Regions from separate parts of the Homo sapiens genome. Here regions 2, 3, 4 and 5 are each reported to be linked to region 1. The links are microRNA targets in miRTarBase. Many come from high-throughput screens and were not tested one by one. Region 1 holds a microRNA gene; each other region holds the end of a gene's coding sequence.
The links. Region 1 holds the annotated microRNA hsa-miR-6808-5p (CAGGCAGGGAGGUGGGACCAUG, at 3,192-3,213, opposite strand). A microRNA usually pairs through its seed, bases 2 to 8, with sites in the 3' UTR of a target mRNA and lowers its output. Matches are read on the target gene's strand: a 7mer-m8 pairs with bases 2 to 8, a 7mer-A1 pairs with bases 2 to 7 and ends in A, and an 8mer does both.

Region 1 (5,284 bases):
CGGGTGGACCCACTGCTTTTGCTCCCTGGGAGTGAGAACAGGATGGGGAAGGAGCCTGTCAGCACCAGGCCCGGCCACGTCCAGAACAACCGCCCCCGCCAGGTGACCGGGCAGGAACGGTGGCCCGTGCAGGACGGGTGGGTGGGGCAGCCATGCAGGCGCGAGGACAGGGCCGGCACCCCCAGGGTCGCAGGGGCAGCTGCGGCAGGCATGGGCTGGTGGGGGCAGTGGGAGGCAGGCAGGGTCCTGGGGCAAGCTGGGCGCCCCCACACCTCACCCCGATGCTTGAGCTGAGGGCCTGGTCTTGCGGCTGAAAGACTGAGGTGCCAGCGAGGGCCCCTCATGCCCGGTGCCCCCGTGGCCATCCTGGATTCCCCACCCAAGGCCCCACTGTCCCCCCGGCCCAGGACCCTGGCCGACGGATGACTCAGCTCAGCCCTGTCCTGGGCTCCCAAGACGCAGTGGGAGCTGGAGGGCGTGGCTGGCTGGGGACATGCTGAGGGACCCCGGGCGGGACCCTGGCTTACCGGCCCAAGGTCCGCTCCGCTAGTCCTTCAGTCTAAGGCTTGTTTAGCACAAGACAAGGGATAGCACGAGTTACACGCCCGGCTGCCTGGCACCTGCCCAGCACCCACCCGCCACCAGTGGGGACTGACCGCGGGCTGGGCGGGGCTGAAGTGGGCGCAAGCGCCGGTCGAGGGTCAGTAGACACCCAGCGTGGCTTCTCTGCGGTCCCACACCCTCTGGCCGCCTCTCCTCTCTCGCCCTCCTTCCTGGGCCCTCCACGAAGCCACCTGCACCCCTCCCTGGCCTGCAGACGCCCCTGCTGGCCTCACCAACCCCACCCACTGGGGCCTCTGCTCCACCAGGCAACACCTCAGGAACACTCTGGATCCCCGGCCCCTAAACACACCCCAGCCAGGGGCACAAGGCTAGGATGCACGGCACCATCCACGTCAGGCTCCCTACCCGGGCTGCAGCTGCCACCCTCCTGTGTCCTGGGGCCTAGAAAGTGACCCTGTCAGACTCCTTGGCCACCCCTGCCCTGTCCTTGTCACATGGCCCATGGCCACATGGTCTCAGGGCCTCCTGCCTCTACCATAGGAGAACCACCAGCCGCCACCCCTACCAGGCACAGCCGCCCAGGCCGCCAGGCTCCTGGAGGCCCCTCATCCCAATCCCACCCAGATGAGGTGGGGTCCAGGCTGCCCCTGTGTGAGACGCTTCCCTGTCCTCCCCATTCACACTGGCTCCTGGATCCCCCTGGCACTTGCCTTTTCCAGAAGGAGCCCACCCAGGGCCCAAGTACACAGCAGGAGCATGGGATTGGGGTCAGCAGAGAAGCAGGGCGGAGCAGCAGCGGGGTGGGGTGGAGCTGGGGGTGGAGCAGCAGCGGGGTGGGGTGGAACTGGGGGCGGAGCAGCAGTGGAGTGGGGCGGAGCTGGGGGCGGAGCCGGGGAAGGGCAGGTAGGGGCGGCGTTCTCACCTTCACTCTGCTGACTCCCGGTGCTGCCGCTGCCATAGCTAAAGCCCGGGTCCTGGTAGGCAGGCGGGAAGCAGGGTGGGGGTCCCGGGTACTGGTAGGGGTAGCCCTGACCCAGAGGCCAGGGGGCAGCCGGGTGGGGCAGCGGGGCCAGCGTGTCCTGATCCGAAGTCCCACTGGAGCCACTGTTGAGGTTCAGGGTGGCGAGATCTGGCGGGGGAGGGTAGGTGAGGGCCGCGGAGGGGCCTCCGGCGTTCCCCTCCCCCCCGCCCTGAAGCCCGAAGCCCCCACTCACTGCTGCAGAGATCCCCGAAGACGTAGTAGCACTGCTCGGAGAAGGTGATCTTGTTGACCGTGTGCCGCAGGAAGCCGTGCTTCAGCAAGCTGCTGGCGTACTTCCGGGCCTCCCGCCGCTCCTTGAAGCCCTCCACGTGTGTGTACAGCCAGTCCACCACGTCCGCCCCTGGCCGGCACCAGCGGTCAGCCCGCAGCCTCGAGGCAAGCAGCCCTGCCCCTGGCACTATCCGCCCGCGGGGACGGCCACTCACCGATGACGGCATTGGCGATGGTGATCTTGAGCCACATGCGGTCGCGGATCTCCAGTCCCGAGTCTGGCAGCTGCATGACCCGGACGACGGCGCTCATGTCACTCTTCACCGTCAGCGGCGCCTCTTCCAGCTCTGCAAAGCACAGACAGCCCCGCTTCAGCCCCAGCATCTGAAGGCGGGGGACTCAGGGCCCTGCACCCCCAGGGGAGCCTCTGGGCAGAGCCTGCGCCAGGGCGCAAGCTGGACGGTGCGTGACAGCAGGGCCCCGGCCCACTGCAGGATGCACCCCCGTGAGGCTGGGGCGTGAGCAGGGGGGTTGGACATTTAGTCTCCCACTTCTACAGACACTTTTCATCAGGATCCTAGGCACAAACTGGGCTGACACCCCACCCTGCAGACCAGGAAGTAATGAGAACAGGGCAGGCCCCTTCCCCTCCCCGCATGCCCCACCCGAGAGCGCAGGCTGTTAGTCGTGTTAATGGCAGGAAGCAGAATGGAGACCTGGCCCCTGCCTCTGACGCCGTGGGTGCTCCCCGCATAGGGGCCCTACGTACATCCCCTGTTCCCAACACACAGACCATGAGCAGGATGGGCTGCACAAGGTGGGCACGGGTGCCTGTGCACACGTCTGTGCAGGGAGTTGGGGACAGGCAACACACACGTGTCACAGCCCCATGACGGCCACAGGCGGCCATGCTGGAGGCTGGCAGAGACGCCCCCTCCAAGCCTCGGTTTCTGCTGGGGCCCTCAGGAGCTGCCACTTACGTGGAGCACCAGGCACGGAGCTGGTTAGTGAGGAGGAGCTGGTGCGCGTGACGGCGCTGGAGCAGGGACTCGTACCGTAGCGGGGCAGGGCTCCTGTCAGTGCCGCCGTGTGGGACAGCCAGGCGGCGGGGTCGATGGGCCGCACCGGGTCAGCTGGGTGGCCGCCACGTGGCGATGACAGGCGGACAGATGGACAGGGTGGGAGGGCAGGGTGCAGGGCACAGAGGAGAGAGGCCTTCAGGCTAGGTAGGCGCCCCCTCCCCATCCCGCCCCGTGTGCCCCGAGGGCCACTCACCCCGTGGGACGGTGAAGTAGCTTCGGGGCGTTGGGTCCCAGCACTTGGCCACAGTGAGGCTGATGGGCCTGCAGGAACGGTGGTCACACAGCAAGGCCCCCATGGTCCCACCTCCCTGCCTGGCCCCTCCCGCTCCAGCGCCCCCAGCCCTCACCCCGTCTGGGAAACGATCTCCCGCAGCACCCGCACGGCATCGTCATTGCTCATGTTCTCAAAGTTCACGTCATTCACCTGCAGGGGTGGGGATTAGGGTGGTGCAGGCAGGATGTGCAGCTCAGTCCACCGCCCCCGCAGACCCACCCACAGCCGCATGTCCCCCAGCAGCCCCCGCAGACCCACCCGCAGCCGCATGTCCCCCAGCAGCCCCTACAGACCCACCCGCAGCCGCACGTCACCCCAAAGTCCCCACGGACCCACCCGCAGCTACATGTCACCCCGCAGCCCCCACAGACACACCTGCAGCAACATGTCGCCGGGCTCGATGCGGCCGTCAGCGGCCACAGCCCCGCCCTTCATGATGGAGCCAATGTAGATGCCGCCGTCTCCACGGTCGTTGCTCTGCCCCACGATGCTGATGCCCAGAAAGTGATGTCTTTCTGCAGGAAGAGCCATGAGCCGCGGCCAAGCCCCTGCCCCTGCCCCCAACCCTCGCCCCGAGGCCTCACCCATGTTGAGCGTGACAGTGACGATGTTGAGGGACATGGTGGAGTCGGTTATGCTGCTGAAGGAGGAGGCCTATGGAGGAGAGGGGGCGTGTGTAAAAGGCACGGGGCTGCCCGACACTGACTTCGCCTCCCCAGCCCCGCCCTGCTCCACCCGGCTGCCTACCCGGTCCGCCTGCCGAAGGCGCTGCTTCCTCCGCCGGCGTTTGTGCTTCCGGATGAGTCTGGATGAGGTGCTCTGCTCCGTGGAGCTGCTGAGCCTGGGAACAGACTGTCAGAGCTCAGAGGAGCTGGAGACATGGGTAGGGGGGTGGGAACCCGCTCCCCCAATACTGAGTGGGAATCGGGGGTCTAGGCCAGGCTTGTTCCAAAGCAGGCTCAGTGCCTGACGTCCACGCCCCAGGCCCTGCACACGTGATATGCATATGAGCACACACGAAAATCCCAGAGACAGGCAAACTGGGCACAGACACATGTAGCCAGATCCACTACTGACACACCTGCACACATGCACACCTGCACACACATGCACACCTGCACACACGCACCCCTGCACAAGGCACACATGCACACACCTGCACACACACCTGCACACACGCAACCCTGCACACATGCACCCCTGCGCACAGGCACACATGCACACCCCTGCACACGCACGCATGAACACACGCACACCTGCACACGCATGCACACCTGCACACACGCACCCCTGCACACTACACACCTGCACAGGCACACATGCACACCTGCATACTCACCTGCACACGCACCCCTGCACAATGCACCCCTGCACACACGCACCCCTGCACACACATGCACACCTGCACACACGCACCCCTGCACACAGGCACACCTGCACACACCTGCACACGCACGCCTGCACATGCACACCTGCACGCACACCTTCACATACACCTGTACAAGCACACCTGCACACACGCACATCTGCACACGCACACCTGCACACACGCACACGCACACATGCACACACCTGCGCACACGCGTGCATTGTGAAAACGCTCACGTGCACACTGTGAAAACGCACCTCACACACACATACATGCACACACAGACATGCGCATCATGTACATAAACGTTTGCACACAGGTACATGCACAGACACATCCGCAATGTGAAAACGCCTCACACAGACACACATGCACAAGCAGACACGTGCATCATGTACACGTTTGCACGCGGGCACACACACAGGCGCGCACACACGTGCACAGTGAAAACACCTCATGTGGAACACGTGCACAAGCACACGTGCATCATGTACACAGACATTTGCAGGCACACACATGCACACACACGCACACACGTGCAATGTGAAAACACCTCATGCAGACACATGCACATCATGTACAGACATTTGCAAGTGGGCACACAGGCATACACGCCCACAGACACTCCCACACACCTGCTCGTGCTGCCATCCTCGTCCGAGTCCACAAAGCTGCTGGACTCAAGCTCGCTGCTGAGGGCGGTGGACGCGCTGTCTGGGGGCAGCCCCACATCCCGCCGTCGG
Region 2 (6,468 bases), not on the chromosome of region 1:
CCTATGAGAACTACCTCCTGGTCTTTATCCGCGGTGTAGGCCCTGAGTTGGAGGTGCAAGAAGATCTTCTGACCATAATCAACCTGACTCATCATTTCAGTGTTGGTGCGCTCATGTCGGCAATCCTAGAGTCCCTGCAGACAGCAGGGCTTAGCTTGCAGAGAATGGTTGGACTGACCACGACCCATACTTTGAGGATGATTGGTGAGAACTCAGGACTCGTCTCATACATGAGAGAAAAGGCCGTAAGCCCCAACTGTTGGAATGTCATTCATTATTCAGGATTTCTTCACTTGGAACTGTTGAGCTCCTATGATGTAGATGTTAATCAGATCATAAATACCATATCCGAATGGATAGTTTTGATTAAGACCAGAGGCGTTAGGCGACCTGAATTTCAGACTTTACTAACGGAATCTGAATCAGAGCATGGTGAAAGGGTTAATGGACGATGTCTGAACAATTGGCTTAGGAGAGGGAAAACTTTAAAACTAATATTCTCTCTAAGAAAAGAAATGGAAGCGTTCTTGGTTTCAGTAGGGGCAACAACAGTCCACTTCTCAGACAAACAATGGCTTTGTGACTTTGGCTTCTTGGTGGACATTATGGAACACCTTCGAGAACTCAGTGAAGAATTACGAGTTAGTAAAGTCTTTGCTGCTGCTGCCTTTGACCATATTTGTACTTTCGAAGTTAAGCTGAATTTATTTCAAAGACATATTGAGGAAAAAAATCTAACAGACTTTCCTGCCCTCAGAGAAGTTGTTGATGAGCTAAAACAGCAAAATAAGGAAGATGAAAAAATATTTGATCCTGATAGGTATCAAATGGTGATCTGTCGTCTCCAAAAAGAATTTGAGAGACATTTTAAGGACCTCAGGTTCATTAAAAAGGACTTAGAACTTTTTTCAAATCCATTTAACTTTAAACCTGAATATGCACCTATTTCAGTGAGGGTGGAGCTAACAAAACTTCAGGCAAACACTAATCTTTGGAATGAATACAGAATCAAAGACTTGGGGCAGTTTTATGCTGGATTGTCTGCTGAATCCTACCCAATTATCAAAGGGGTTGCCTGTAAGGTGGCATCCTTGTTTGATAGTAACCAAATCTGTGAAAAGGCTTTTTCATATTTGACTCGAAACCAACACACTTTGAGTCAGCCATTAACAGATGAGCATCTCCAAGCCCTGTTTCGGGTTGCCACAACTGAAATGGAGCCCGGTTGGGATGACCTTGTGAGAGAAAGAAATGAATCTAATCCATAAGGCTTTGTAGTACAAGATTGAAAAACTCAACAAGAATTTAATTCTAAAAGCAAAAATTGGTTTGAGTTTTCAAGTTTACTAATTTGGATTGTGAGAAAGTACCAAGTACCAGCCGTCCAAACTGATCACAATTAAAATTCTGACAGTTGCCTTTTTTTTCATCTCAAATGGCAGCATGGGACTGAAACATGAGAATGCCACCTTTTTTAAAACTTAGTTTAGTGACAAAGTCATTGTCTTTTATGATATAGTTAATTTTAAAGAGATTTAGTATTAATGTGAGTTGAATTTGCAGTCTGTTTTTTAGGTGTTCTGAAGATAAATGCCAAAAATTTCAGCTCTTATTTTAATGGAGTGTTAAAATTCTGATTCATATAGTCTTAAATTATCAACTCCTTAAATGTGCTTTTGAACCAATTTGCAGAAGCTCACATAGCAAGTTCATAAGTTTCCAAAAAGGAAGCCCATACATAACAGTGGAGGTGTTTTGTCTAACCATCAAAATGTTTGAGACTTTTTTTTAAACATTTCTGAGTTCGAAGGTAATACTGACAGATTTCTTCCCTCTTCCCTCCCCATCACCCACCTCAGTGATAACACATTACTGATAGAGGAAGTCATTAGAATCATTTTTAAGTTTCAGATATAGGAGACTTCATGCAATTTGGAGATAAGACTAATTATTGGGGGTTTTCCTTGGATTTTTTTTTTAATAACTGGGGGCTATTTTATCAGCTTGCCTATTAAAGGACTATGGTAAGTATAGAATCTTAATGGTTGCCAGTTAGTAATTCTTTTTTTTTTTTTTTTTACTGTAGACACAAGTTTGGCCCTATCAAAAACGATGAGGAAAAAAGATTGCACTCCAGGATTAGGAGGTGTGAGATATTTTAGCTTTTTTGTCTTATCTGCGTGGGTATTGCTGCTTTATTTTAAAAAATCCTGCCTAAAGTAAACACTTTGTTTTAAAATGATACAGTATCAGATTTTGTTAGATGCTAGAAATGGATTTATTCTAAAATTTGGAACTGTCGTACACATTCTATATGTAAGATAGCACACAAGTAGAAATATTTAAAAGCAGTCTTATTCACAGATTGCAGTAATTCTGTATTTCTACTAAGATAATCTGCTTTGTGCCAAAACAGTAATTTCCAAACTTCTGTTCACCATGAAAAGGCAATCTTAAAGTTCATTATGTAAAACTAATTATAAACAGGACCCAATTTATATTCATAGATCCTCTCAAGTATTATACAATTTAAAAACTCTTGTTCCAAAGTCCTGTCTTAACTATTGAAACACCTTAATCTGTGGTTACTAATCCAGCAAATTCAAGGAACCAGGCTATGACTAAGAATTTAGGTGGAATTGATGTCTGGGCAATTAAAATAAATGGCATAAGAGCTTAAAAACCAAAGTTGTGCCAGTGGCTTTCAACTAGAGGCAGTAACCTGTCATTCCAGAGGATGCTGAGAAATGTGTAGGGGCACTTTTTTGGTTGTCATATTTACTAGGGGCTTCTGTTGGCATTTAAGCCTAAAGACACTCACCCCTGCAGTGCATGGGACAGCCTGGCACAATGAAGAATTAGCCCTCCCAAAATGTAGATTATTTTATTTCAAGGGATAGGGCAGATTACCATTAGAAGCAAAATTAAAAGTACAAGCTGGGCAAACTGACAGAATACTAGATAGGAGAGACTAATTCCAACCTTCTAAATTTGGCTAGTAAAGTGCAATAAAGGCATTGATAAGTTCTGTTAGCTCACCATAGCACTTGTAAATCAGGAATTAATAATTGAATCAGATTTAAGGGCTCTGTCCTGTTATACATATTTAAGGCAGAAAAAAAGTTACATGTCGATTAGGTACTTATCAAGAATGGTCAAGCTGAGATTTTGGTTAATAGAGTAAGCTTACATATCTAGAGAAACAACATAGTGGAAAACCGAAAAAAAAAAACAGAAAAATCTACCGGTAATTTCCCAATAGCTTTGAATATTCACAGCAGAGCTTTATTACTTGAGAGAAAGACTGGAAGACCTGAAAGCCACTTCTGCTTTCTAACCCCAGTTCCTTAAATATTGAAATCTTGTACATTTTGTGAAATTCCAGTATGTTTTGCTTAAGGTGTTAATAAAATTAGTTTGCATCATGTAGTCATTGAGTGAGGGGGAGATATAAGCCAAGGATTTTAAATTGACCCTTAGCTATAGAGAATTTGCTATAAGCTAGTCTTGTTTGTAAAAAAAAAAAAAAAAAAAGAAAAAGAAAAAAGTGTATTTTACTGTTTTCTGTATTAAGTAATTCTGTAACTGCATGGCAGTCTTTTTTTTTTTAAATAAATATAGTTGTTACTGGTCCTGTTGTAGCAGTGAATATAGTTAAAATACGTACATTAAAAAAAAAATTATTAGGTCCTTACCAGTTACTGTCCTATAGCTCATTCCTACTAGTTTTCTTGACAGATTTGTATTCCCAGTGTCCCGTATTGCCACTCAAATTGCTCTACTATGCTAAGTCCTTGTTAATAGTCTTACCCTCCTTGAAACACTTGAACACTTGATGACTTTAGCTTTGAGGAGATACCATCTCCAGGTGTGCTTTCTTAGTCTTTGCAGGCACCTCTTCCCTTCAATATCTGTTCTTCGTATTTTTAAAAAAATTTGTTTTAGACTGCCTTGTTCTGTGTCAGCTCGCTAGCTGATCTCATTTCCTTCCATGGTTTCCTTACCATTTATATGCAAATGACTGTCAGATTCATATCTCCTTTCTAGATCTTCCCTAATTGATGTATCTAATTGCTAACAAATGCTCTTTGCTGTCTCAGGCACTACATGTCATTGATCTTGCCCCCAATCCTGCTCCTCCTCTCATGTTTCCTCTTTGACTAAATGGCATTACCACTACCAACCATTCATTTGTCCTTTTTACCAATTCTCCAATGCTGCCATTTTAATTCAGGCCATCAACCTACCTAAATTATAGCAACAGCCTCCTTATTAGTCTCCCTGTTTTTTATTTTTATTCCTTTCTACACTACAACCAAATTGCTCCAAAAGACTTACTGATCATGTCACTGCATTGCTTTCACCATTGCTCTTAGGGTACAATACAAATTTATCTTCATCTTTAAGGTCTCAGTATGCCACTTCATCTAGGAAACCTTCATTGATGCCCTCTAGATTAGGTGCCCTTACTATCCATTCCCTATACACCCTGTTCTTTCCCAGACATACACTTGGCACACTTTATTGTTACTGCTTATTGATCACTGCTAGACTGTAAGCTTTGTAAGGGCAGGGACCATATAAGCCTTGTTCACTGTTATATCTCTAGTGCTTAGCACAATGCCTGGCATTTCAATAAATGTTTGGACAAACGAATATTTGTGTAGTGTTTTACAATTTTTGAAGCTCTTTCACAGTCTTATTTGACCTTCACAGTCATTCTGCCTTAGACTGTCCATTGGGTAACTTTTATCCACATATTACTAATTGAAAAATGAAGACAAGTTCTTTGTAACTAGGGACCTCGTTGTATTCTCAGAATTTAGTGTAGTGCTTAGCATGTGACTTAAATATGTATTATGTGACTGTTAAACAAATTGTGGTTTTCTCTGTTGTATGAAAGGAGAGAAGGATAACAAATTGCGGTTTTCCCTGGTAAACACAGTAAGTAGTAAACTCAGGATTCAAAACCAAATATACACACCAAATCCACTATGTAATATTAAGTTTGCATATCCATGTATAGAATCTTATTTTTTTTTACCCTTTGTAAACAGTGTCATATATATATATATATTTTTTTTTTTTTTTTAAATTTCCAAAGGAACCTACATATAGAGGGAAAAGATTAGACAACTACTTAGTGAACTAAAACAATATGTTTTTACTAAATGTTACATTTAGTATTGGAAAAAGATAATGCCGCCTAAGAGTTAATAATCATTTTTCCTTTTGTAGGCATCAACACTAGGAGAAAATGGCATGCTATTTACTTGCTACTTTCCTTTACAGATGATTTTTGGCTCTTCTGGGATTTAAAAGTAAGTAAATTTAACAAAGTAGAAGACTGACTCAGCCCTTCTGGTCACTATATATTCAGTTCACTTGTTTTTACACCTGCAGAATGTCCTTATCACCCAAAGGGAGATGACCCAAAAGTGACATCTAGTTAATGTATACTTCTAAAGTTTGCTGTATTCCTTTGCCTTCTTGTTCCCATGCCTCTCTGAACTTAATTTCTGGGTAACTGAGGCTTTTCAGGCTTAGGTGGGAAAGCCACACCCTTAGTCTGTTTCCTTAAGCCATTTTGACCAATTTATGGGATTAACTAGTATAATCTTAGTTGGAGTTTTAGTCTGAGGCATATTAAGTCATTCAGAGATCTTAACAGTAGGTGTCATAGTCATCCAGTGATTTGGTGCTTGCTGCAAAACTGGCTTTTTTTTTTTTTTTTTTTTTTGAGGCGGGGTCTCACTTTGTCACCCAGGCTGGAGTGCAGAGGTACAATCTCAGCTCAATGCAATCTCTGCCTTCCTGGCTCAAGCAATTCTCCCACTGCAGCCTCCTAAGTAGCTGGGAATACAGGTATACACGAGTACACCCAGCTAATTTTTGTATTTTTATGTGGAGACAGGGTCTTGCTGTATTCCCCAGGCTAGTCTCGAATTCCTGGACTCAAGCAGTCCGCCCGCCTCGGGCTCCCAAAATGTTGGTGTTATACGTGTGAGCCTCTGCACCCGGCGGCAAAACTGGCTTTTAATCAACCTTTTGGCTAAAGGATTTCTCTTTTTATTTATTTGTAAAAGGATTTCCCATTTTTATCTTTCTTTTTGATATTAAAATGTTGCCTCATCCTACCCAGTAAGTACTTGAATTTGAATTCTCTTCCTTTTCATTTTTGCCTGCAAACTGACCAGTCTTTTCTGAGTTCATCTCTTCTGTACGTTTTGTCAAGTGCAGTGAACAGCAACTACAAAATATTTTGTTTTTCTGTCTTTTTCTTTAGTAAAGGGTAGATGATCTGCCTTTCAGGTTATCTCAAGGGGCAGTTTCACCTTTCCATAATATAAATTACCCTTGTGTAAGTTATTTCTTCCATCTTCTGATAGCAATTTCCTGAATGCCTGCCAGCTAACCATTAAGCCAGTGTTCAGTATTTTAGCATTTTAAAAAACAAGGGACCAATTT
Region 3 (6,468 bases), not on the chromosome of region 1:
CTTTTCTTTCTTGTGTGTGTAAGCTGGATTCCTAGGGGTGGAATTACTGGGTCTGAGGACATTTCCCCCCGCAACCCCCCCTTTTTTTTTTAAGAGATTGGGTTTTGCTTTGTCATCCAGGCTGGAGTGCAGTGGCATGATCACGGCTTACTGCAGCCTCAACCTCCTGGGCTCACTCAAGCGATCCTGCTGCCGCAGCCTACTGAGTAGCTAGGACCATTTCTAATTTTGTTAGGTATGCCAATTGCCCCCCCATGAGAATGGTGTCCCACCATCAATGTACAAGAATATGTTTCTTCAAAATATCACCAGCAAGACCAGGCACAGTGGCTCAAGCCTGTAATTCCAGCACTTTAGGAGGCTGAGGCAGGTGGATCACTTGAGGCCAGGAGTTTGAGACCAGCCTGGCCAACATGGCAAAACCCCATCTTTACTAAAAACACAAAAATTAGCTGGGCATGGTGGTGCGCACCTGTAATCCCAGCTACTTGGGTGCCTGAGGTGGGAGGATCATTTGAGCCCAGGAGGCAGGGGTTGCAGTGAGCTGAGATCACACCACTGCACTCCAGCCTGGGCAACAGAGCAGACTCTGTCTCAAAAAAAAAAAAAAATTCAATAGTGTCATCAAAAATTTTAATCCTTGCCAGCCTGAAATGTGAAAAATCTCAGGGTATTTTTCCATACTTATTGGCATACATTAAGGTTGAGTATCTTTTCATGTTTTGCATTTTCTGTGAAACTCCTGTTCATAGCCTTTGCCTGTTTTGCTACTGTTTCCCTTTTTTGTAGGTGACATTTTTTAGGGAGATTATCCCTTTGTAGCATGAGATGCAAATATATTTTCCCAATTTGTCATCTATCTTTTGAATTTGCTTAGGATTTTGTTGTTTTGGGATTTTTTGGTTGAGTTTTCCGTTGGTTTTGCCATGCAGAAGTTTAAAAATTTTATATAATCAAATTGACCTCTTTTATGGCTTCTCGATTTTGTACACTTCGCCAATGTTTTTAACCTATTTCTTCAATAGATTCGTTTTATTTTACTTTCTAAGACAGGGTAACACTTTGTCACCCAGGCTGGAGTGCAGTGGCACAATCTCAGCTCACTGCAGCCTCAAGTTCCCTGGCTCGAGCAATCTTCCCACCTCCCACCAAGTAGCTGGGTCTATAGGCAAGCACCACCATGCCTGGCTAATTTTTCTATTTTTTACAGAGAAGGGGTTTTGCTATGTTGCCCATGCTGGTCTTGAACTCCTGAGCTCAAGCGATCCACCCACCTTGGCCTCCCAAAGTGGTAGGATTCAGGTGTGAGCCACTGCACCCGGCCAATAGATTCATTTTATACATTAAGCTCCTAATCGATTTACAATCCAGGTGTGCTGAGTGAGGTATGGAGCTCTATTTTTTCCAGAAGTTTACCCAATTGTCACAACATGAAAACATCTTAAAACAATTCAGGGCAAACCACACATTTCTGCCAATCAGATACAACCCCATGGGCTGCTACCTTGAAACCTCTTGCTTTGGTGAGCACGAAGTTCACATCCGCTGGGAAAGTGGGAAAGGGGGTTGACCGAAGAGCCTTGCTCTTGGGAAGAAATCTGCAGTGACCTTTCTACTGGTGTCCCTGTCCAACATCAGCCACAAAAGAAAAAGACTGGCAGGCCTCGGTGGCTCACGACTGTAATCCCAATACTTTGGGTGGCCAAGGTAGGAGGATCGCTTGAGCCCAGGAGGTTGAGACTAGCCTGGACAACATAGCAAAACCCCGTCTCTGTTTAAAAAAGAGAAAGATCAGATCACCCTTTCCTAGGCTGCAGTTACCCTTACCAAGGGGTTAGAGGCCATCAATAGTCAGCAACCGAGGACATCATTGACTGGACAATGGAAATGTCAGGCACTTTGCTTTAATGAGGACGCACATGAAGTCACCTGGCACAGGGACAGTGGAGCCGCTCAGAGGACTGAGGTTAGGGGTTGGTGATGGCAGGGCGCAGTGTCCCGGCCTTCCTTCTCCCCAGATGTTTCCAAGCGTCCCTTAAAGCTCATTGTTTGGCAGTGCAAATCCTAGGAACTTTGGAACGGCTACTTCCAGTTCACTTGTCACCTTTTCCCCATAGATTTCCTGTGCAACCTCACCCCTCCTAACAGGACAGGGAAACCCAGAGAGAGCAGCCTCCATTCTCCCATGACTTCTAACTCTGACACGTAAGGGCAGTCCCTGAGTCACTCGCTGTTCAGGCCCTCGGATGCCGCTGGTCAACTGAGAAACGCAGGACAATCAACCCTTTCCCCATCACAGCCCGGGCCCTGCAACAGCAGCCTCCCATTACTGAGAGCCCCTCGCCAGTGTGCCCAGCATGCACACAGCTCACCTCATGTCACCCTCACCACAACCCATCAGACCAGAGCCATCCTCATGTCTTACCGCAGGGGCAGCTGGACTCAGAGAGAGCAAGTGAAAAGCCCAGCTCACACAGCTAAGAGGCATGGGAGCGGACAGTGCTGCCAGGCAGGCTAACCTCAGGGCCATGCTCCTAGCGTGGGGCCTGTGGGTCCCTGCTTTAGGACACTCAACGTTGCTGCGGCTTAATCACATGGGATTTCCTTCCAACTCTCCCTGGCCCCTGTTTCAGGGGCTGGGAGGAGAAAGAAGCCTGGGAGTGCCCAACACTCAGCAGATACTCACCCTTCCGGAAATGAGTGTCCTCAACTGCTTGTCTAAAAAATTAACATTAGCTTTCTCCTTTTTCTTCTTTTTTGAGATAGGGTCTCGCTCTGTTGCCCAGGCTGGAGTGCAGTGGCACGATCTTGGCTTGCTGCAACCTCCACCTCCCAGATTCGAGCGATTCTCCTGCCTCAGCCTCCCGAGTAGGTGGGATTACAGGGGTGCACCACAGCACCTGGCTAATTTTTGTATTTTTAGTAGAGATGAGGTTTCACTATGTTGGCCAGGCTGGTCTCGAATTCCTGACCTCAAGTGATCTGCCCACCTTGGCCTCCCAAAGTGCTGGGATTACAGGCGTGAGCCACCTCACCCGGCCAACTTTCCATCCAACGTGTGCTCTCCCTGAGCACACTGGGGCATGCAGAGTGTCCAAGCTCCCTTCGATAAAAACAGTCCCAGCCAATACAACACAGCCATGGGAATGATCTACAGTGACACAGCAACAGTGACACCTCCCAAGGTAACATCAAGCCGGTGAGGCCAGAGACAAGAGATGACACACCGTAGGTACACATCCCGTGTGTCCTCTCTTTATACAGAGCACAGAAACAAGAAACTCCAGTCCATATGGTTAGATGTCAGTATGCTGTCAGCCTGGGGTGGGGGTGGGTATGGGCATGGACCAGAAGCGGGCATGAGGGGGCTGCTCAGTGCTGATAATGTTGGTTGCTCAGTCTGGTGAGGCTTAAATAGATACACTCAGTTTGTGAAAAATTTAGTGAACCACTTAGGCACCCCTTTCTGTAATATAAATTATACTTCAATAAAGGTTTGTGCCAACACTACATTTTGGGAGGCCGAAACAGGAGGGTCCCCTGAGCCCAGAAGTTCAAGACCAGCCTGAACAACATAGGGAGACCCTGTCTCTACAAAAAATAAAACAAATTTGAAAAGTTGCCAGGCATGGTGGTGCACATTTGTGGTCCCAGCTACTTGGGAGGCTGAGGCAGGAGGATCACTTGAGCCCAGGAGCTTGAGGTTTCAGGGAGCCATGATCACACCACTGCACTCCAGGCTGGGTGACAGGTGTCTCATTTAAAGAAAAAAAAAATTGTAAAAGTCACCTCAATAAAAAAATGCTGACCGGGCATGGTGGCTCACACCTGTAATCCCAGCACCTTGGGAGGCCAAAGTAGGAGGATCACCTGAGGTCAGGAGTTCGAGACCAGCCTGACCAACATGGCGAAACCCCGTCTCTACTAAAAATACAAAAATTAGCTGGGCGTGGTGGTGTGCTCCCGTAATCCCAGCTTCCTGGGAGGCTGAGGCAGGAAAATAGCTTGAACTCGGGAGGCGGAGGTTGCAGTGAGCTGAGATCATGCCACCGCACTACAGCCTGGGTGACAGAGTGAGACTCCATCTCGAAAAAAAAGAAAAGAGAATAAAAATGCTGACTTTTCCAGAAACAAGGGGTCTACCTATATCTCTGAATTCCAAAAATTGTCTAAACTATTTCCCTGCTTTTCTGTTTTTAATTTTTAAAAACATTTTTAGCCAAGATCTCACTTGGTTACCCAGGCTAGAGTGCAGTGGCACAATCATGGCTCACTGCAGCCTCAACCTCCCAGGCTCAAGCAATCCTCCCACCTCAGCCTCCCAAGTAGCTGGGACCACAGATGTGCACCAGCACGCCAGGCTAATTTTTGTATTTTTGGTAGAGATATGGTCTCATTATGTTGCCCAGGCTGGTCTCAAACTCCTGGGCGATCTGCCTGCCTCGGCCTCCCAAAGTGCTGGGATCACAGACATGAGCCGCTGCACCTGGCCTCTACTCTATCTTGCCAGATTCATTATTTTAGGCTTCCTTGAAAAACTTTTTTGGGGTGTGGGGGACAGGGTCTTGCTCTGTTGCACATGCTAGGGTGCAGTAGAACAATCACGGCTCACTGCAGTCTTGACCCTGTGCATAAGCGACCCTCCTGCCTCAGCCTCCCAAGATGCTGGGATTACAGGCATGAGTCACCTTGCCCAGGCAGATTATCTTGAAATTCTAATGCAGATTTACAGTTCAGTCCTGTATGTGCATAGGGGAATTATGTGTGTGTTCTTGGCTCTTCGAGGAATTCCAGAAATACCCATTGCAGGTTGAAGCCACAGTGAGAAATCCGGAGTGTTAGGACAATAGCAGGAAACTCATCTGCATGGGAAGAAATGTGGGTAAACAAGCCTTTGAAGACCCTGGGGGTCCTAATGACCTCTGCACTCTTGCTGGAAATCCAAAGGCCGGGACTACCCCTCCCTCAGCTGGAGCCTCATCAGCAGGTGCCCAGGATCAGGCCCTCGCAGGTGAGGCACAGGAGGAACCTTCTAGAAAACACTGCACAGGTGAAAAGGAAACTATCACTCCCCGTCATTCTCACACCAGACCAGGGCTGAGCTCTTGACACCTTTATTGGAAGGATCCTCAAGGCTGTGGGCACCGAGGTCTGGAGGCAACAGAAGCAGCATCCACCCACCCACCACAGTGGCAGAGCACACCCCGTGCAAAAACCCATCACAGAGAGAAGGACCATGGAGCCCCTGCAAAGCCATCATGGAGAGAAGGAAAGTCCCCACTGTCCATCAGCCCCGGCCAGGCCTGGTCCCTCAACCCCTGTAGAACCCCAAGCAGGCCGATGTGGGAGGCATCACCACACGTGGGTTCCAACTGCTTCTCCAAACCCTGTGGTCTCACATGAGGCAGGGAGGAAATTTGAAAATGGCAGCAGCCTGGGCACGGAGGCTCCTGCCCATAATCCCACCACTTTGGAAGGCCAAGGTGGGTGGATCACTTGAGCCCAGGAGTTTGAGATCAGTCTGGACAACATAGTGAGACCCCATCTCGACATTTTTTTAAATATTTTTAAAATATAAAATAAACAGCAATACAAAGAAAAAACCCCCAAGCTGCAGTGTGTACACAATGTCACTTTCCAGCGTTCCTGATGGGAAGACCACAAAGCTCACAAAGGCCGAGGGCAGGTGCGGGGGTGGTGCTGTGCTTCCCCGGCGTCCACAGGAAAATAGTCCTCCGTCCTATACAGTGTGGGCAGCTCGTACGTCACGGGCACCGGTGCAGGTGACTTCTGGAATGACAAGAAATGAAGCTCTATCAGCGATTTGGATCCACTTGTTCCATGACCCAGGAATTCCCGGTCTACAAGTTCATCCTGCAGGACTCACACATATGACCAAAGACTCTGAGCTCCTCTGACAGCACTGCCTGTGACAGCCAAAGCCGGCCACCCAAAGGGACCAAGGCATCCATGTCAGGCCCTCTCCACAATGGAATACTCTGTAGGCATCAAGAAGAGCCAGGCAGCCCAGGCGCAGTGGCTCATGACTGTAATCCCAGCACTTTGGGAGGCCAAGGCAGGCGGATCACTTGAGGTCAAGAGTTTGAGGCCAGCCTGGCCAACACAGTCAAAGCCTGTCTCTACTAAAAATACAGAAATTAGCCGGGCATGGTAGCGCGCACCTGTAATCCCAGCTACTTGGGAGGCGGAGGCAGGAGAATCACTTGAACCCGGGAGGCGGAGGTTGCAGCGAGCTGGGATTGTGCCACTGCACTCCACCTAGAAAACAGAGTGAGACAATGTCTCGGGGAAGAAAAAAGAAAAAGCCAGGCAGATCAATATGTTCTGGCAGAGGAGGACTAAGAAAGCAAGGTGAGAAGGGTAGACATGTGACAAAGGGACCTATACCGACACGTGACAGCTCTGCAGGGCCATCTCAGAGCCTGGGTACAGTGGCTGTGGTTGGTG
Region 4 (6,468 bases), not on the chromosome of region 1:
CCTGTAATCCTAGCACTTTGGGAGGCTGAGGTGGGCTGATCACTTCAAGTCAGGAGTTCAAAACCAGCCTGGCCAACACGGTGAAACCCCGTCTCTACTAAAAAATTAAAAAAAAAAAAAAAATTAGCTGGGTGTGGTGGCAGGCGCCTGTAATCCCAGCTACTTGGGAGGCTAAGGCAGGAGAATTGCTTGAACCTGGGAGGCAGAGGTTGCAGTGAGCCGAGATCGCACCACTGCACTCCAGCCTGGATGACAGAGAGAGACTCTATCTCGAAAAATATGAAAAAAATAAAGGCCTGGAACAACTGAAATCCTTCCTCCGCTAGCTCAAAATTGGCCGGCTTTCTGCTCAAGCAGCGCACAGGGTGGTGGAGGAAGCCAGTGATAAGTATCAAGATGAAGGCTTCTGTCTGGCTGCTACAGACGTGTCCTGGGGGGATAAAAGACAAAGGGTTATGGGAGGCTGGAGGAGAGGCCCCTCACTCAGGCTAGGGAGGTCAGTGAAGGTTTCCTAGAGGAGGTGACATTGGCCTGGGGCTCTGAAAGATGGGCAGGCATTCCCCAAGCAGATGGCCTGGGGAATGGCAGTCCTAACAGAGGAACAGCAGGGACGAAGGCCTGGAGACAAAGAATGGGGCTGATGTCACCCTGTGTCTAAATCCTAGCTGTGCCATTCCAGAGCTGGGCGACCTTGATCCTCTGAGCCTTTTTTTTTTTAAGCAGATGGGATGACGATAGACCTCCTTCAGGAGACGCTTGTGCCATAATAAGATGTCATCCCAGCTCCAGGCACACTGCACATGCTTGGTATCAGTCACTTACTGGGCCACTGAGAGCCCTTGGTGGGCTCAGGGGATGTGGGTGGGCTGGGGTTGCTCGGGAGGTCTGGGGTGACCATCGCCCTCGCCTGCAGGCCGCTGGAGTAACATGTACAAGCTACCCTACAACTGGATCGGCACAGGCCACGTGGTGTACCAGGGCGCCTTCTACTACAACCGCGCCTTCACCAAGAACATCATCAAGTACGACCTACGGCAGCGCTTCGTGGCCTCCTGGGCGCTGCTGCCCGACGTGGTATATGAGGACACCACACCTTGGAAGTGGCGCGGACACTCGGACATTGACTTTGCCGTGGACGAGAGCGGCCTGTGGGTCATCTACCCCGCCGTGGACGACCGCGATGAGGCCCAGCCCGAGGTGATCGTCCTGAGTCGCTTGGACCCCGGCGATCTCTCCGTGCACCGGGAGACCACGTGGAAGACACGGCTGCGGCGGAACTCCTACGGGAACTGCTTCCTGGTGTGCGGCATCCTGTATGCCGTGGACACGTACAACCAGCAGGAAGGCCAGGTCGCCTACGCTTTCGACACGCACACGGGCACCGACGCACGCCCCCAGCTGCCGTTCCTCAACGAGCACGCCTACACCACCCAGATCGACTACAACCCCAAGGAGCGGGTGCTGTACGCCTGGGACAATGGCCACCAGCTCACCTACACCCTCCACTTCGTGGTCTGAGTGGAGACCTGTGCTCCCCGGAGAGGGGCAGCAGTGCGGGAGGGGCTTTGCACAGCAGCTCCTGCAACTGACCCAGTCCGCAAATATTTATTGGGGGCCAGCCCAGGGCTGGGACTGGGCATGAGGTGGTCACCAGGATTGAGCTTCCTCAGCACCCAGTGGGTAATACTTGCTTCCACTTGCAGAGCACCGTGCCAAGCACTTCCCACACACTTACCCGTTTGATTCTCCTAGCACCTCCCTTGGAGGTAGAGATCATGAACCCATTTAACAGACGAGGAGACAGGCTCAGAGAGGCACCGTCCCTTGCCTAACACCTCAGTTGTGATCAGGCAGGCTGTGCTCTCAGGACAGCCCCATTTTAGGGATGAGGAGACTTCACCACGCCCTCCCCTCCCTGCCCTCCCCCATCTCCCCGGTCTCCCTTGTTCTCTCAACCCAGTCTCCCTTCCCAGGGCCACTCAGAACCAGAGGTCTTTAGGGCCAGTGTACTGGTGTGGGGTGGAGGCCCTGGCTCTGCCTGCCATCCTAGGGCCCTGTTCTGGCTGAGCTGTTGGTGGCCCTGGGCTTTGGGCCCCTTAGCCAATGTCCTTGTCTCTTGTCTTTGGCCAGCCCCCTCAGCCCAGCCCACCCCACCCGCTGTCCGGCCACATTCCAAACCTCTACCGTCACCTAGCTGCTGAGCAGAAACCGCACCCCGAGAGAAAATCCCATCCTCTGTTCCAAGGCCCCTGTCTGCTCTATGCTCATTTTTATTTTCTCTTATTCTTCATCAGTGCCGTCATTTGTTTCTGCAGCAGCAGCTGAGAAGGCAGCCGGCAGCTCTGCCAGGGTGGGGAGCTGAGCTGAGGCTCCCTCTCCACCCAGAAGCACTGGCGTTGTTCACATAGTCAGGCCTTGGGTCCCCTCCCTGGTTCATCCCAGAGCCTTTGGGCCTGGAGTCCGCCTTGTCCTTTTTCTCTGGGCTTTCAAACCCACAACCTTTACACACTCAGGGATACCTCCGGGTCTGCCATGAATAAGACCCTAGGCCCAAGTCTGGTGTGGTGCCAGGATGGCACAGTTTCCCTCTTCCTTGCCAGCCCTGACCTGGTCACTGGGCAGGCTGGCCCAGCAGCCTGGGGGCTGCAGAAGACATGGTGTGAGTAGTTGGGTCCAGGGGAGGCATCAGGCCTTCTTCTGGTTGCAGGAGAGAACCAGAGGGTGGGAACGGGGAGGGAAGAACTGAGGGTCTGCAGACTGGACTTTTCCTGGCTCGACCCAGGACTTGGGTTGAGGATGCACGGGGGCCACCTTGCCCGGGGCCACTGGTGGCTCCCCAGAGCCTCAGACCCACACAGCCCAGAGGACGAGGCCTTCAAGCCTGCCCCTCTTCTGCTTTTTTAGACAGTATTTTTAGAGCTGGAAAGAAATTTTCTAGCCCAACTCCCTGTTTCATGAAAGAGAAAAGAGGCTCAGAAAAGTTTAGAGAGCAGCTCAGTGTCACACTGGGAGCTGGGCACAGCCGATCTCCTTCCAGAAGGGTTCTGTCTGTATCCTTTATTCTCCGCACATGGAGGCTGCCCTACCTGGGAAGGCACCCCAGCACCTGTGAAGGACATTTACTGCTCATCCTCACCTGCCCCCTGGCCCTTGCTGCCTTCATTCTGTCCCAATGCCAGCTCCCTGGATGTCTGTATGTTTGAATACCAGTTGCCATGTTAGGAAGGTCAGCTGCACAGCCAAGAGTGTAAGAGTGTAAAGAAATGCCTTTTTTTTTTTTTTTGAGTTGGAGTTTTGCTCTTGTCGCCCAGGCTGGAGTGCAGTGGCGCGATCTCGGCTCACTGCAACCTCTGCCCCCTGGGTTCAAGCGATTCTCCTGCCTCAGCCTCCCTAGTAGCTGGGACTACAGCACCCACCACCACACCCAGCTAATTTTTGTATTTTTAGTAGAGACAGGGGTTTCACCACGTTGGCCAGGCTGGTCTCGAACTCCTGACCTTAGGTGATCCGCCCGCCTCAGCCTCCCAAAGTGTTGGGATTACAGGCATGAGCCACTGCGCCTGGCCAGCAAATGCTTTTTGTGCAGAATACACTTCTTTCAGGCATTGTCAGGTGCTGTTTTGTTTAAGCTCTAACTCACCCCTGGAATACAGGGGAATGATGACAACCAGCCCAGCCAGGCCTGACTCATCATGGTCACATCCAGCCCCCACCCCCGGCCAACTAACCACTGCAGGCTCCTCTTCCAGACTCACCAGGGGGCCTCGAGGCCCCGGCATCTCCCTTGGCCCTGGGTGTGGGTTTTACAAGACTGTGTCTTTCATGACATCATAGCCCAACCATGTGAGAAGAAGGAGAAGGCCCCCCTTTCTTCATTAATCTGAAAAAAAGGAAAGTGAGAATAGGCTGATTTTTAAAAGTTAAGGGGCAAGCAGCATTGCATTCTGGGGGAACGATCCTGGCCACAGCCGCCAAACAAACATTCACTAGGCCTCTTCTGTTTTCATACCCTTGTAAGTGGGTTATGTGGTGGGTATGGTCAGTTTTTTCTTTTTTCTTTTCTTTTCTTTTTTTTGAGACAGAGTTTCGCTTTTGTTGCCCGGGCTGGAATGCAATGGCGCGATTCAGCTCACTGCAATCTCCGCCTCCCGGGTTCAAGTGATTCTCCTGCCTTAGCCTCCTGAAAAGCTGGGATTACAGGGCCCTGCCACCAAGCCCAGCTAATTGTATTTTTAGTAGAGACAGGATTTCACCATGTTGGCCAGGCCAGTCTCAAACTCCTGACCTCAGGTGATCCACCTGCCTCAGCCTCCCAGACTGTTGGGATTACAGGCATGAGCCACCACGCCTGGCCAGTTTCTTCATTTTACATATGGTCACATTGGCGCCTAGAACAGTTAGGTCGCTCGTCACATAGGCAGTTAAGTGGAGAACCAGGTTTCAAAATCAGGTAAGAAAACCATCATCATTAACTGAGCACCAGCTGTGCTAAGCCTGCCACGGGCGTATCCTTGCAGCCTCACAACAGTGGGAGGTCTGTATCCTGAATGTCCTCATTTTACAGATGAGGACATTGAGGAGAAGAGACTTACCCAGGCTCACACAGCAGCTCAGCCTGTTCCAGGCGCTGGTCAGTGCGTGTTCTTTGCCACCAGCCTGTCACTCCAGTGGCAGCTCCAGAAACGGAGGCTGTTGCTTTTATCCCTAAACTGCATCCACAGAGAAGCCCCAAGAAGGAGGTTGGGGCCAGCTCATAAAAAGCCTGAATGCCAAGCCAAGGAGTGGATGCCTCCAGTCATATTTAGAACAAAGTCAAGTATAAATTTACAGAGAAAAAATTCTAAGACAGTTGGATGTTGTCCTGTTGGTGAGGAAGGGAAAGGTTTTTCTTGTAGGGAACTGGAACCAGCCCACAACTGCACACTTGTGAGCTGTCATGGAAACCTGATCCCCAACAGCTTTTGAGGTTGTTTGTTTGTTTGTTTGTTTACCTGTCTTGGGCTTTGTTGCTTTTGGCAAAAGGTACTTCAAACAAGGGAGGGCCTGGACTGAGGGGGACCAGGTCTTCTTGCTGACCTCGTCTACAAAGGCAAAGGAAGGCAAAGGAAGCTGTCTCGGGTGTTTCTGAACAACGTGACTCATGAGGGGCTTTGGCTACCTCTTGCGTTCCCCCTAGAGATGTCCAGGCCTTACATTTAATCGGCTTTCTCTGCGGTGGGGTAGAGAATGGAGCTCCCGCCTTGCGGGCAGTGCTAAAGGTGGAGCTGGGGGATTTTCCTGGGAATGATTTGAGGGCTCTTGAAAGCCCATGTGTTCCAAAGCGTCTTTAACTCTGGGATAGCATTGGAAGCCGCTGTCATGACAGGACATGGCACTGGATGGCTGGCAGAGAGCCCTGGCTGGGAGTTAGGGAGCCCTGGGTTGGAATCCAGCCCCACCTCTTTTATGCCACAGGTTTGGTCAAGTTCTCTCCCGCTCAGGGTAGGGCTGTGAACTCCCTCTTACAGCTAAGAACATGCAGCTTAGTGAGGACAAGACCCTTCTAGAGCTTTACCCCTAATCCCCCCCCAGGAGCCCCGAGGCCGGCATTATTCCTCCCCATTACAGGTGATGAGCCTCAAATTCAGAGAGCTTAAGCAACCTGCTCAGGGTCACGTCTCCAACAGGCAGTAGAGTCAAGGTATAAACCAGGTCTGTTTTTGTACCAGAGTCCCAGACTAACTGTTGGTAGGAATCTTGTAACCAGTCATGTTTTCTTCCTTGTTTTGGCCGCTGGGAAGCTCAAAGTCAAATTCGAGACCCTTTTTTTTCCAATTGTGCTGAGTCTCCTACTAGACTCGCTTCATTCTAGCTTTCTGCTTTTACCTTTACCCTAATCTTTTTATTTTTATGCTATTGTACTTTATTTTTGTAAGTTGCTGAGATATCTGTTTTGCAACAAGATGGGCTATATCTAAATAAAGACATGATCAAAGGTTTGATTTAAAAGTCTGGACTAAATGCTGTGGTCCATATCTTTATCAGAACACATACATTTAATAACTTTTAAAACAAATAATTTGTCGGCTGGGCATGGTGTCTTGCACCTGTAATCCCAGCACTTTGGGAGGCTGAGGTAGGTGGATTACTAGAGGTCAACACAGCACAGGAGTGCACACTCACAAACAACTGTGCAAGAGCATAAGCCTTAGAATCTGTCAAACCAGGGGTCGAACTTGGGGAATTTGCTTGGGGTCTGACCTTTCTCCTATTAAAATGGAGAAGATCATATTGTATATATTCTAGAGTTCGAGACCAGCCTGGCCAACATGGTGAAACCCTGTCTACCAAAAAATACAAAAATTAGCTGGGCATGGTGGCACGTGCCTGTAGTCTCAGCTACACGGGAAGCTGAGGCAGGAGAGTTGCTTGAACCTGGGAGGTTGCAGTGAGCCAAGATGGCGCCACCACACTCCAGTCTGGGTGACA
Region 5 (5,000 bases), not on the chromosome of region 1:
ACAGCTCACTCCTCGATGAGTGTCTATGGGGCTCTGTGGTGGGGGTTGAGGATGTGAAGACCCATGGGGCAGTGGCTCCCTTTTACTTCCAACAACTGAAAATGTACAAGTGAGCCATGATGCAGCGTTTAGGACTCAGGCTCACAAAGGAGACCAAAGAACTGTATTTGTGGAGTCAGACGCAGTTGGGCTCGATCCAGTGTCTGCCACCTTCTTGTTTTGTGACCTCAGGCAAGTGAGTCCTTGGAGCTTCAGTTTCCTGTTCTGTACAGTGAGGGTGGAGAGAGTTGTGGGGCCATGAGGATTGGGCTAGATCTGGAGTGTGAAGTGCCTGGCATGCAGTGAGTGCTTAGTAAGTCAGCCATTGTTGAAGTGCTGACAAGCAGAGGGATCCCCTCAGGCCAGGGAACGGGGGAATGACCTTGCGGATGTGAGGAAAGATTTCAGTGGGGTCCTCAATGAGGAGAATTTGAACGGGCAGAAAAGAGGCAGGGTTAGGGCATGAGCCCGGTGCTGTTCTGTGGCAGGAGCTTGGCCAAAGGTGGGGTGAGGACATCTGTACCCGGAGTGCAGAGAGGTGGGTGATGTCCTGCAGCCTGGGCTTCGGCCTGCAGGGAGTCAGGGCCACAGAGCTGAGTAAGAGGATGACCCCTCACTTGGGGTGCCAGGGGAGTCATGTGGTGGCAGATCCAGGATGTGGAGGCTAGGGCAGGCAGGCTGCTGGGGGCATTGGTGCCACTGACCCTGGGCAGGGAGATTTGGACCTGATCCTGAGGTGGCTGAGAGCAGAGATTCGAGAGCAGACCACCTTGGTCTGAACTCTAGCCCCGCTGTTGCTCTGCTGGGGCTCCTTTTATTCTCTGTGCCTCAGTTTCTTCATCTTTGAAGTGGAGTTAGCTCCTCCTCATAGAGTGGATTGTTAAATATGTAAGATGCTTGGAACAGTCTCTGGCTCACACTATGAGCACCCTAAGCACTCGCCTACTGCAGCGGTGGTGGTGGGAATGGAAAGAAAGAGTAAGTACATGGGGAGTGGGTAGGGACAACCTGAGCCACGTGCAGAGGAAAAGGGGTCAAAAGAATAACTGAGGTCTGGAGAGAAAGATGACAAGGTATGTTGAGTTTAAATAGAAATGTCCATTTGAGTTTGGAACCCCTGTATCTTGAGAGAGTGGCTGGAGCTAAGGATGGAGATTTGGGGGTTTTCTGGATAACAACTATAATCAAAATCCCACAGTTGGCTCAAATGGGGGAGGCTTTTAGCCAGCACTCCAGCCAGGTCTCACTGCACATGTGGCAGAGTCCAGTCTCCCCAGCGTGGGGGTGAGAGGTGGAGCACAGGCAGAAGCACCCTGTCCCCACCAGCCAGAGTCTGGTCATTCTTGGTTTTCAGTCATCCTACCTGCTGCCCAATCAGAAACATCTTCCTGGTTGGCATCTGTCTAGGACAGTTTCCCAGCTCAGTTCCATTCTGTGGAACCACAGGATGAAGGTAGGTGCAGTGAGAAGGAAAAAAGAGTTTTGCATGCAAATATGTTTGAAAGGTGTTAGATAAAACAAAATGAAAATGACCCCATTTTTGGCTGAGTTTCTTGGGGCCTCATGCACAGTGTCAGTCTCCAAGGGGTGATAGGGAAAAAGAAGGGTTTCGGTGTTCCTCGTGGAAGCAGCTTTGGAACTAGGATCTCTGAAATGGCATAGAGATCACTCCGGATTGCCCTTACCATATCCCCAAGCCCCACGTGGACAGACGCGTCACACACACTCACAGCTGTCTTTTATTCCTGTTCATTCCTTGTTAAGAGGCTTTGACTCTCCAGAATCCAAGGGGCAGCCCCTCTTTTCTGCCCCTCCCCACACATCTCTGGCTGCTTTCTCCTCTGCAGCTATGCCTGTGTCTTTTGTGCTCATAGGAAAACAGGCTGGTCAGCCACAGCAGTCCTCCTTTTCTGGAGAGTTCCGACCCTGTTGACTCCCCTGCATCCTGCACGGCACTTCCCTCCACCAAAGTCCCTCCGTGGCAGGCCTGGGCCATAGCTAAGGGGAGCTGATAACATGCGCCTTATTTAAAAGCCACAAAACTATCTTCTCAAAGTAATCCTTCTGTGAGCTGTTCACCACATCAGCCTGGCCTGATGCCCCACTTGGCCTCAGTCAGCATGGCTTGGCTCTGAGGCCAGAAGATAGGAAGGACGCTGCTTTTATGTCCTTGTAGTCCACTCCAGCCTAGCCTGGCACAGAGGACAGGTTAAGCCCCCTCAGTCCTGGCCCCGAATGTCTGCTTGGTTTGGCGCAATCCAGCGCCCCTGACCTGCTCTGTCTTTTTTCCCAGGAAAGAGCATCTACGGTGAGCGCTTCCCCGATGAGAACTTCAAACTGAAGCACTACGGGCCTGGCTGGGTGAGCATGGCCAACGCAGGCAAAGACACCAACGGCTCCCAGTTCTTCATCACGACAGTCAAGACAGCCTGGCTAGATGGCAAGCATGTGGTGTTTGGCAAAGTTCTAGAGGGCATGGTGAGTTGTGGAAGCAAGGGCTACTACTGGGCAATCCTCACCGGGGATTCAACACAGACCCCAGGGCAGGAGCTCCATGTGTCCATCCCTTTCCCAAAAGGACCCAACCCACAGATGCAGCCCAGTGCTCCTGTCCAGAATAAACCCTGTACCTCCATGCCTCCAAGGTTCTAAATTCTTCCAGCCCCCTCAGAGCCCAGCCAGGAAGGCTGCACAACTGCCAGAGCCTCCCTCCCCTCCTTCACTCAGTGACGTGCTGGTCCCACCCCTGAGGTATACAGAGTGCAGCTGAACGCAATGTCCCTGAGAAGCCACATGCCCTGGTCACCCTCTTCCTCCTCCTCACCCTTGGCCCAACCTGGGTCTTACTTCAAAGGAACAAAATTCCTGTACCCCCTCGTCAAATCTGCATTCTCCCTGCTCTGGCCAGGAGTCTGTTAGAATTTTGGTGCCTCCAGTTTTGTGTGCTGTTGATCACTTGTGGGTCTTAGCCCTCCTGAGCCATACGCTGGGGCCTTTCTCCTGAGCGGTGGACCTCCTGATCCACCATGCCCTCCTGCTTCCACCTTTCTTTTCCAGGAGGTGGTGCGGAAGGTGGAGAGCACCAAGACAGACAGCCGGGATAAACCCCTGAAGGATGTGATCATCGCAGACTGCGGCAAGATCGAGGTGGAGAAGCCCTTTGCCATCGCCAAGGAGTAGGGCACAGGGACATCTTTCTTTGAGTGACCGTCTGTGCAGGCCCTGTAGTCCGCCACAGGGCTCTGAGCTGCACTGGCCCCGGTGCTGGCATCTGGTGGAGCGGACCCACTCCCCTCACATTCCACAGGCCCATGGACTCACTTTTGTAACAAACTCCTACCAACACTGACCAATAAAAAAAAATGTGGGTTTTTTTTTTTTTAATATATAATGTGTGGGCCTGGTTCTTGAGCCTGCAGCACCTCCCCTAGGCCTACATCCCAACATGCCTGCAACTCTCCTGTGGCAATGGGTGCCTGCCCCTTCCCTGGGATCCTGCCTGAAATTTTGACCCAGGAGCTACCCAGGAAAAGTCAGGCAGGAGCTTTTGCCCCCTGCTTCTAAACTTTGCCAGCTACTGGGCCTCCACATTTGCTCCCCTTGCCACCACCCTCCAGTCTATGTTAAGGGATGTATCTGTACTTTTTCATAGCCTACCTCTAAATTGATTTTTTTTTTTTTTTTTTTTTTTTGGTAGAGACAGGTCTCACTATGTTGCGCTGGCTGGTCTCAAACTTCCAGACCCAAGCATCCTCCTGCCTTGGCCTCCTAAAGTATTGGGATTACAGGCATGAGCCTCTGCACCCAGCTGACTTCTTCCTTTATTATTTATTTATTTTGAGACGGAGTTTCACTCTTGTTGCCCAGGCTGGAGTGCAGTGGCGCGATCTCGGCTCACCACAACTTCCGCCTCCTGGCTTCAAGAGATTCTCCTGCCTTGGGCCGAGCACGGTGGCTCACGCCCGTAATCCCAGCACTTTGGGAAGCCGAGGCGGGTGGATCACCTGACGTCAGGAGTACAAGACCAGCCTGGCCAACGTGGTGAAACCCATCTCTATTAAAAATACAAAAATTAGCCGGGCATGGTGGCGGATGCCTGTAATCCCAGCTACTCGAGAGGCTGAGGCAGGAGAATTGCTTGAACCCGGGAAGCGGGGGTTGCCGTGAGCCGAGATCGTGCCATTGCATTCCAGCCTGGGCAACAAGAGTGAAACTCCGTCTCAAAAAAAAAAAAAAAAAAAAAAAAGAGATTCTCCTACCTCAGCTTCCCGAGTAGCTGGGATTACAGGCATGCACCACCACAATGCCCGGCTAATTTTGTATTTTTAGTAGAGACGGGGTTTCTCCATGGTGGTCAGGCTGGTCTCGAACTCCTGACTTCAGGTGATCCACCCATCTTGGCCTCCCAAAGTGCTGGGATTACAGGCATGAGCCACCGCGCCTGGCTGACTTCCTCTTTTATTACTTATCTTCTTGACCCTGCCTTGGCTGTTGGGCTCTAAGAGCATACAAATTCTACCACCTCCAGCTACCAATGCGAGCCAAGTTCTGAGCCTTGAGTGGGAATGTGGCACAACTGGGCACTGGGTAATTAAGTCCTGGGTCCAGGCCAAAGGAGGACCCAGCCTTATATGGAGTTCATAGGACAGAGGCACATGACTTTCTTAGGAGGCAGCCAAAGGCCTCTGGACTGATCAGGGCATCGGTGGCAGAGGAGCAGGGTGACAGGCCGCCTTTGGCTGGGCTTTATCTGGGCTGATGCTGAAGCTGTAGAGGCCCTGGAGCACACCATTCACCACCACGTTGGGCAGCGACTCTGTGGGATAGAATTAAACAGGTCTGGCCTCAGACCTGCAGCTCCTTGAGCTCCTGCTCATGGGCTCAGCCCCCACTTGGGAGTAGGAGCCCCTGCCAAGGCAGCAGACAGCAGCTGTCCACCCCAAATGAAGCCTCCGCATTCC

Region 2: miRTarBase lists EPM2AIP1 as a target of hsa-miR-6808-5p. Seed matches in the 3' UTR shown: 8mer at 2,210-2,217.
Region 3: the mRNA of BCAS4 is a reported target of hsa-miR-6808-5p. Seed matches in the 3' UTR shown: 7mer-m8 at 5,403-5,409.
Region 4: the mRNA of OLFML2A is a reported target of hsa-miR-6808-5p. Seed matches in the 3' UTR shown: 7mer-m8 at 3,376-3,382, 7mer-m8 at 4,167-4,173 and 7mer-m8 at 4,299-4,305.
Region 5: miRTarBase lists SNX22 as a target of hsa-miR-6808-5p. Seed matches in the 3' UTR shown: 7mer-m8 at 4,163-4,169 and 7mer-m8 at 3,575-3,581.

The regions. Positions count from the first base shown.
Region 1 is chr1:1,336,491-1,341,774 of GRCh38, forward strand. It overlaps MIR6808 (microRNA 6808), which reads right to left and starts at 3,218; the gene lies at 3,160-3,218. DVL1 (dishevelled segment polarity protein 1) reads right to left here. Exons shown (of 15, transcript NM_001330311.2): 5 at 5,177-5,284; 6 at 3,920-4,013; 7 at 3,757-3,826; 8 at 3,548-3,687; 9 at 3,246-3,322; 10 at 3,092-3,159; 11 at 2,797-2,949; 12 at 2,032-2,163; 13 at 1,779-1,946; 14 at 1,487-1,693; 15 at 1-25. RefSeq lists a silencer at 1,454-1,513.
Region 2 is chr3:36,986,054-36,992,521 of GRCh38, reverse strand. EPM2AIP1 (EPM2A interacting protein 1) reads left to right here. Exons shown (of 1, transcript NM_014805.4): 1 at 1-6,468. The coding sequence ends at 1,268. Among named protein-coding and RNA genes, the nearest start is that of EPM2AIP1, 3.8 kb to the left of the region's middle. RefSeq lists enhancers at 1-110, 141-220 and a silencer at 1,227-1,276.
Region 3 is chr20:50,875,808-50,882,275 of GRCh38, reverse strand. BCAS4 (breast carcinoma amplified sequence 4) reads right to left here. Exons shown (of 5, transcript NM_198799.4): 5 at 5,099-5,790. The coding sequence ends at 5,668. It overlaps LOC124904929 (a long non-coding RNA gene), which reads left to right and starts at 6,265. Exons shown (of 2, transcript XR_007067647.1): 1 at 6,265-6,468. RefSeq lists enhancers at 1,895-2,394, 2,395-2,896, 5,555-6,135.
Region 4 is chr9:124,808,895-124,815,362 of GRCh38, forward strand. It overlaps OLFML2A (olfactomedin like 2A), which reads left to right. Exons shown (of 8, transcript NM_182487.4): 8 at 914-5,988. The coding sequence ends at 1,518. Among named protein-coding and RNA genes, the nearest start is that of OLFML2A, 35 kb to the left of the region's middle. RefSeq lists enhancers at 2,314-2,814, 2,815-3,317, 3,819-4,320.
Region 5 is chr15:64,154,242-64,159,241 of GRCh38, reverse strand. It overlaps SNX22 (sorting nexin 22), which reads right to left. Exons shown (of 7, transcript NM_024798.3): 7 at 1,761-4,855. The coding sequence ends at 4,734. PPIB (peptidylprolyl isomerase B) reads left to right here. Exons shown (of 5, transcript NM_000942.5): 4 at 2,333-2,517; 5 at 3,097-3,425. The coding sequence ends at 3,219. Among named protein-coding and RNA genes, the nearest start is that of SNX22, 5.0 kb to the right of the region's middle. RefSeq lists enhancers at 4,796-4,955, 4,966-5,000, 4,831-5,000.